2 linked regions of the Homo sapiens genome follow. The protein of the gene in region 1 purifies or fractionates together with the protein of each later gene. This does not show direct contact. Each region holds a gene or a part of one and is shown on either strand. Other genes may lie near its edges.

Region 1 (5,215 bases):
ATTGTGACTATAGACAAGGGCAGACCTACACCCCAAGAATACTGGTATGGAGTATGGAGGTATGCACAGAGGGTGAAGACTGAGCTAAGTCTTGAAAGATGACAAGGCTTTTGACAATACACAAATATAGGGCTGCCAAGTTTGATGAGTGTAACAAACAAATAGAGCCCTGAGATACAGAGTAACACTCGGGGCCCACTTCCAGAGGGTAGCAGGGAAAGACAGTCAGCAATCTTCAGCGGAGGCCTGAAGTCTGAGAAGGCCAGTCCCATGAAGAGTATTCCAGGCAAAAAAAAAAGACATATGTGAGGCCTGAAGGTGGTTCCCTGCTAAGCCAAGTGGCCAAAGTTTGGTGAGTAGAATGAAGAATGGCTCAAGAGAATGGAAAGAGAGGCAGGGACAGATCGCAAAGGGCCTCAGGGCCAGGGAAAGGAACTTGGACTTCATTCCCAGGGCAATGAGGAGCCATTAGAGACTCATAAAAAGGGAGTACCATGGCATTATTTCTTCTTAAAATACTGAACACCTGCATGAAGAAAAGTTAAGAAGGGTGGAGAGATACAAGAGAAGCAGGGAAACCACTTAAAAAGCCTCATGCTAGGTGAGGGTACTGATACACAAGAGGAGAGAAGTGAAGAGAAGAGACATATTCTGAGGTGGAACCAAATGGGTCACTGGACGTGGGAGGGAAAGGGAAGGAGGACTCCCCAGTTTTCTATTTGAGCAATTGCCTAGATGGTGGTAACTTCTGCCAAGATAAAGAATACTAAAGGAATAAAAGGTTTTTGAAGAAAAAAACAACAACAACAAGAGTTCTGCAAAGGACACAGTTAAGTTTAAGAGGACTATGAAACATCCAAGTAGAAAAGTCAGGTTGGCCAGGAGCCTGGAGCTCAGAGAACCAGGCTGGGCTAAAGATATAAATCTGGCATTCATTAGCATCTAGATGATATTTAAAGCCACAGAAGTTGATGAGCTCACCCACGGAGAGGGTAGAGAGAAAAGAGGAAGGGATCTATGCTTATCAGAAGAACTTTCAGATGTATTACACTATGGGCAATGGGTATGTCTGAAAATTCTTAAACATGATTTGTATTTTGGAAATAATGTTGTAAGGGAAGTAGAATGAGAGCCTGAACTAAGGAGGGGGATTATTTGAGTGAAATTTAGGGAAAGATCCCTTTCTTGAGTTACTTGATACAAGGAATGAAAGCAACACAGGAGTCTAAATGGATTGCCAGATTTCTGGCCTGAGAAGTTAGGTAACTATAGCACCACTATGAGACAGAAGCACAAGATAAACTTAAGGATGGGATGGTAACGATGAGTTTAAGGTGAAAGTTAAAGCAGTGGGTTTGAGTGAGAACACCCAGAAAAGGCACACAGAGTGAGACGATAATAGCCAAAACCCTGGAGAATGTTAATTAAAATGCGGGCAAAGAAAGAAAAGATCATAAAATAAGAAAGAGGGAGAAGCCAGAAAATAGAACGAGGAAAAAGTAGGATTACTTAAATTAAGGCAGAAACAAGTATGGATAATCAAGAATGGTCACTTGGGTCAAATTCCAAAAAGAAACTGAGCAAGAGAAAGACAAGAAATCTTAGTATCTGGCAATCAGGAATTATTGGTGACCTGGGACAAGCGCGGTAGCTGCTGCCTGTAATCCCAGCACTTTGGGACGCCAAGGTAGGATTGCTCGAGCCCAGGAGTTGGAGACCAGCCTGGGCATTGCAAGACCCCTTCTCTATAAAAAAAATTTTTTTTTAAATTAGCCAGGGTGGTGGGATACACCAGTAATCCCTGGGCTTTGGGAAGCTGAGTGGGGGAAAACTGCTTAAGCCCAGGAGGTCAAGGCTGCAGTTGGCATGATGATACCGCTGCACTCTAGCCTGGGTGACAGAGTGAGACCATCTCTAAAAAAGTAATTATTGGTGGCCTTATAGCATGGTGGAAGAAGCCAAGCTAAAGACTGAACGGGAGGGAAGAAAGTACATACATGACTTGAGACTTGGCTACAAAAGGAGAGTGACTGAGGGCAACACAAGATCAAAAGAGAATTTCTTCCAAATGTGGGATCTGCATTAGTAGGATTCTTATGTGGAAATTTAAAAAAAAAAAAGGTAGAAGAATAAATTGAGGGCAGGAGGGATAGAATCTAGAGGTTAGCCTGGGATATCACAGATACTTTGCAGGACAGGAGGGAAAGAATAATATAAAAGTTTGTACATGTGAGGGAGACAGGAGGTTCCCAGCATCCACTCAAGAAAACCCCGCTTTTCTATAAAGACACAGGAATGACCATCTGTTGAGGGACAAGATGACCATCTCCGTAGAAACTGCATTAATAAGTTCAAGGGATGACACGGGTGGCCAGAGGGCTGATGCTAAAACACACATCATTTGCACCAAAACTTTTAAAGCAAAACTGGAAAAGGTGAATCTAGTCTCTGAAGCACTTCACAAATGAACTCTCTTTGAGAGCCTATTAATAAAGCACTTAAGTCCTTTAAAACATAAAAACAATTTTTTCAAAATTGAATTAGTAAGTCTCAAAGTCTGTAAGGATCTGTGGTAGCTAAATCAGCTTAGAAGTGTGATCCATCACCTTATCCCGGGTATAAGGATTTTTCTCTTCCTCTTCTTGGGTATTTTGTTGAACCTATTTACATTTTAAGGGACACAGTAGAGTCTAGTCACACTTATAAATGAACTGTTCTGTAAGTCAAAGGATTTATATCAGGAAGAGAACCAGATTTAGGGCAAAAGATCCACTAATTGCTAACCAATATCTTGGACAAATCACCTAATCCCTCTCACCTCCATTTCCTCACATACCATCATTTCCTTGATCCTATGATGCACTCCCTCACATATCAGAATCAGGATGTAGCCTGATACTAAAGTGCAAACTTCATATACAAGCGTTCCTCCACCACCTGCACTGTTTAGAAGTCAACAGTAGGCTGGGCGCGGTGGCTCACGCCTGTAATCCCAGCACTTTGGGAGGCCGAGGAGGGCAGATCACGAGGTCAGGAGATCGAGACCATCCTGGCTAACACGGTGAAACCCCGTCTCTACTAAAAAAAAAAAAATACAAAAAAAATTAGCCAGGCTTGGTGGCGGGCACCTATAGTCCCAGCTATTCAGGAAGCTGAGGCAGGAGAATGGCGTGAATCCGGGAGGCGGAGCCTGCAGTAAGCCAAGATTGCGCCACTGCACTCCAGCCTGGGCGACAGAGCGAGACTCCGTCTCAAAAAAAAAAAAAGAAATCAACAGTACATCCTACAATCAACAAGGCCTCTGAGCCTAGAAAAATAATGCCAGTATTCATCTGACACAACTGATGGTATCACTGGATGGACCAAATGAGGCTGAGATGCATTTTAATGTTAGTAACTAACGCCTGTCTGATACCTTAAGGCACAGGCTGCAAAACTATATACATATAATTTGTTTAAATGTCTGGTGATCTTTTTTTTTCCAGACAGGGTCTCAGTCTGTCACATACTCTGGAATACAGTGGCACAATCATAGCTCACTGCAACCTTGAACTTCTGGGATGATCAAGTGATCCTCCCACCTCAGCCTCCCAAGTAGCTGGGGCTACTAGCATGCACCATCACACCCAGCTAATTGTTAAATTTTTTTGGTAGAAACAGGGTCTCACTATGTGGCCCAGGCTGGTCTCAGACTCCTGGGCTCAAGCGATCATCCCACTTCAGCCTCCCAAAGTGTTGAGATTACATGTCTGAGCCACTGCCCCCAGCCTAAATGCCTTTTTTTCTTTTAACAAAAAAGGAAAAACCTATACTAAAGTTAAATGGTAGAAAAAGTGATATTTTACTTTCTCATTTGTGCTTTTCTGAATTTTTGAATTTTTCTCACAGTGAACATCAAGGGGGTAATTATGTATTAATAAAAGTAGAAATAAGAACTCTTTAAAAAGTTCTACCAGCCAGGTGTGGTGGCTCATGCTATAATCCCAGCACTTTGGAAGGCCGAGGCAGGTGGACTGCCTGAGGTCAGGAGTTCAAGACCAGCCTGGCCAACATGGCAAAACCCCGTCTCTACCAAAAATACAAAAAGTAGCCAGGTGTGGTGGTGGATGCCTGTAATCCCAACTACTCGGGAGGCTGAGGCAGGAGAATCACTTGAACCCAGGAGGCAGAGGCTGCAGTGAGCCGAGATTGTGCCACTGCACTCCAGCCTGCGCAATGGAGCAAGTCTTCGTCTCAAAAAAAAAAAGTTCTACCTATAAATCTAGGTCTATTAAAAGCTCTCAGATGGCAGTAATATGCATACATTAAAATATATAAAGATATTACATAAACCCTATTTTAGTATGTTTAGTAACTAAAATCTAGCCACATATTCTATACTCAAAGTGCTACTACGAGAAAATTGCTTTAGTACTTACCTTATTTTCCATAACACGACGTACTAAAAATTTGTAAACACCAAAATATGGGCCACATTACAGTCAACACACAACTGAGTTTATTTACTATGAACATAAAAACTTATAATTCTTGAAAATGAACATTAACATCAATCCCCTAAGACTGTTAACATGCACCAATACCTAAATCCCTATTCCACTAAAAAAGATTAAGAGAATACACTATTTCAAGTGATATAGAAATAATCAAAACATAATTTAAAATTCCTTCTAAAAGCTTGATCCTTACTCTTTATATTTGTGTCTCTACTGTTTCTTTTATTCATTTTCATGTTTCATTAAACATCAATAAAAAGAATAGAGACCACATGTATACAGTTGTACTTCACTACAGATAAGAACAACAGATCAGAGCAAGTGGGCAGTTAAGTCACTCTTCTGTTTCCCTGTGTATTAACATGAAGAAGGAAATAAAATAATACTCCACTCCTGCCTCACAAAGCTACTAAGCAGAGGAGATGATATATATAAGAATGTGCTTGCCCTTTTCAAGAAAAAGAGGTATAAGAAACTCAGGGGATAAGTATCATTTCTGAAAGCTTTTGTTATTCTGGCTGATAAGAAATTTTCAAATATGGTTAAGTAAGCATAAATCCTACACGTTTTCAAGGTGACCCCTATAGGGACCTCTCTATATACAGTCCTGGTATAAATGCATGAAAATACAGTTCATTTGAATTTATATTGACTTGGGGCTTAAAAAATTACAAACTACACTCACTCTTGCCAACCTTTTCAAAGATGACTTTTAAAGG
Region 2 (3,500 bases), on another chromosome or scaffold:
ATAAAGCGGAAGGCATCCTGCCTGTTTAACTGGCAGCCCGTCTTCTGGCCTCACCTCCCTTCAGGTACTGCTTTTTTATCTCCTCCTAAAATGCGGCAGCCCTTATCGTCCCAATCTCAAATTTCACTCCATTTTTTTTATTACACAAAAGAGAAAAAAATCTGTCAGTAAAACTGTCTCCTCAAATTTATTCGCCGAGACTGAGGGTTTTATTACGAGGAAAATACACCCACACCCCACACATCCACACACATACCCACACACCCCAGATAAAGCACTGAAGAATTATCCGAGTCGTAAATCTCTGTTTCAGGCTGAGGGACAGGGGAGTTTCAAGGACGAGACTAGTTTTCCTTTGGTTTTATTTACATCTGTTTCTCTGGGGCTGTGTCAGGGCCTCACTGTCAGCCAGAGGAGTAAATAACTGCTTCTGTGAAACCTGCTTCAGGCAGCTGGAGACAAGTGCTTATCTCAGCTGCAGGGTGAGGGATCTGGAGGGCAGGCCCCACTGTCCCAGCTGTCTGTGGTACACACTCCTTCCTCCCTCAGCCTCTCGGAAGGCAAAGGAAATGGGAGGCTCAGACACGCTCAGGTGGGGCCAGCGGGCTAGCAGCTATTTGCAAGGATGTTATTCTGTGGTTCCTGGTGGTTAGAGGGCCCAAGAAAGAGGCCAGGTGGGAGTTGGGGATTATTAGTACAGGCTGTGGACAGAAGGTGTGGTGGGTGTGCTGGAAGACACCTCGCCTTTAATTCTAGAAACATTTCTCCACGCCTGAGACATACAGGGGCAGTTGCAGCCTCACGGCCGAGAAGGAAATACATTTCAGACATGGTTGCAGCCCATTACGACCTTATTCACAAGAGGTACACAGTCCACAATTAGCTGAGGTTCCAGAGTCAGTAAGATGATGGCTGCAGCAGCAACAGGTAATTACCAAGTGTTATCCAATGATGTTCTGACACTTCTGAAGGAGCCAAGAATCCCCTTGGAGGGAAGGGTGATCATGGAAGGCTTCCTGGAGGAAGTAGGCCCTTTTCAGGGAGTGCTTGGTCCTAGGCTGGCTCTTTCTGTCTATGGGAGGCTTTGGAGCATGAAGCAAGGCTGATTTCCTCCATCCCCAGTTGAATGTTTGATTTCGGTTCCTAATTTTGTGCTCTGAAGAAGTCATTCCACCTCCCCTAGTCTCAGTTTCCTCATCTGTGAAATGGGGATAAGGCAACGTTCCTCCCTATGAGGATTACATGAGCCTTGTAGAGTCCCTGGTGGGTGGGAAGTGCTCACTCATGGGGTATTTTCACGAGCACTCACACCTTTCTGGACCATCTGTTTTTCTGTGTCCCTCCCCACCCTCCAGGGCTCTTTCTGTCTATGGGGCTGGAGAGCAAAGCATCTCTTGCTAAAATGCCAGAGGATGTGGAATTCAGTAAATGAAAGAAGGGAGCCCACACCCAGAGAGGGAGGCAGGTGGAAGGTGCCAGAAGGCTGGGTTGTGTCTATAAGGAGTGGGGTGCAGAGAGCAGGGACCGAGAATTTGCTAGTAGTCATCGTAGCAGCTTCAAAACAAAGTGCAGGGATGCCCTGAGTGAGTACCTGGAGGCAGGCAGGTCTCATGGGCTCTGAGAGGCTCCCATGGTGCCAGTGGGTAGGGACCACGAGGCCAGGGCCGACCGACAACCACAGAGGTGACAAGGCAGACAAGGTAAGCCAAGCCCTGTGGATGTGTGGGTTTGCCTGGCCCCAGAGCGAGAGGCACTTCTGAAATGAATGATTTCATTCACTCCATATTCAACAGACTTTTGATGAACAAACACACAGGTCCTTGAATATGAGCTACTCCTAGAACATAAGCTCTATGAGGATGGGTGGATTTTTTTTTTGTTTTGTTTGTTTGTTTGTTTGTTTGAGACAGAGTCTCGCTCTGTCACCAACCTGGAGTGTAGTGGCACGATCTCAGCTCACTGCAAGCTCCGCCTCCCAGGTTCACACCATTCTCCTGCCTCAGCCTCCCAAGTAGTTGAGACTACAGGCACCTGCCACCACGCCTAGCTAATTTTTTGTATTTTTATTTTTATTTTTATTTATTTTTATTTATTTATTTATTTTATTTTTTTTTTTTGAGACGGAGTCTCGCTCTGTCGCCCAGGCTGGAGTGCAGTGGCGCGATCTCGGCTCACTGCAAGCTCCGCCTCCCGGGTTCACGCCATTCTCCTGCCTCAGCCTCCCAAGTAGCTGGGACTACAGGTGCCCGCCACTACGCCCGGCTAATTTTTTGTATTTTTAGTAGAGACGGGGTTTCACCGTTTTAGCCGGGATGGTCTCGATCTCCTGACCTCGTGATCCGCCCGCCTCGGCCTCCCAAAGTGCTGGGATTACAGGCGTGAGCCACTGTGCCTGGCCGAAGATGGGGTCTTTATCTGTCCTGTCCATTGCTCTGTTTCCAGAATTTAGCAAATGGCACTCGCTCGATAAATATCTGCTGGATGAGTCAATGAGTGAATGAATGAGTTGAGACCTTACCATGTGCCAGGCACTGGGAATACCATGAAGAAAAGGGAAAAGGCCCTTGCTGCTCTGCGATACAGACTGGCCCCAGGACAGCCTGCTGTGCCTGGACCCTGATCTGTCTGGGACTCCCTGGTAAGAGTAGCCTGGCCCAGGCGGGACAGTGGCCTCAGACCACCTCCGATGTGAGGCTCCAAAAGGAACCAGCAGGCTTTCTCTTTCTTAAAGCTCCCAGCATTAATGATATTCTGTGCAGGAAAACATCCTAACTCTGCAAAGCGTACACCTGGACCAGACAGAAGAGGCTGTGCACGTAGTTATGCAAAAGAATCTGCATCCTAACCAGTGCCTACACAGGCTGAGTGTCCCCCAGCCCTCCCTTCCATTGTTCCTTGGAATCTCAGGACTGTAAGCTCCAAGAGCCCTGTATCCCAGAGCCTAGCACAGTGCCTGGCATACGAAGGGATGTTGAATAAGTGAACTATACCAAGAGACGTGTGTCATGATCCCCATTTGCAGACAGGAACCACGGCCAAGAAAGAGGCAAGTGAACTGCCCAAGGTCACACATGTATTATACTTGTAATAGTAAACAGCAGAGCTGACCGCTCAGCATGGATGAGTCCAAAAGAAGGGAGCAGAAGACCTACTTTGAGGTTGGGGATATGGGAAATGTGCAGAGGCTTTTGGGGTCACACAGCTCTGGAATCAGATCCCAGCTCTGCCACTCAGTTGATTGCTGGGTGAGGTTGGAGGGTTCTGTGTGCCTGTTTCCTCATCTGCAAAACGGGAAGGATCATGCCTCCCTGTAAGGCACACGTGTGAGAATTCAGTGCGTAAGAGTGAACACACAGAGAGCCCAGGGGATTGCTTGGCATGCGGTAATAATAGCATGACGGGAATAACAATAGCTGGCATACATTGGCGCCTACCCTGTGCCAGATATTGCTTGCAAACATCACCTCCTGTCATCGTAACAGAAAGTGCTCCATCATATT

What was found.
Region 2: the proteins of MIER3 (region 1) and IGSF21 purify together in Homo sapiens (affinity purification with mass spectrometry; one large-scale study listed by BioGRID and IntAct). This does not show direct contact.

Annotation. Positions count from the first base shown.
Region 1 is NC_000005.10:56,941,228-56,946,442, forward strand, and holds part of MIER3 (mesoderm induction early response protein 3), read right to left. Parts: intron 1-5,215.
Region 2 is NC_000001.11:18,285,798-18,289,297, reverse strand, and holds part of IGSF21 (immunoglobulin superfamily member 21 precursor), read right to left. Parts: intron 191-3,500; exon of another isoform or gene 1-190. UniProt on the Homo sapiens protein: Involved in synaptic inhibition in the brain. Selectively regulates inhibitory presynaptic differentiation through interacting with presynaptic NRXN2.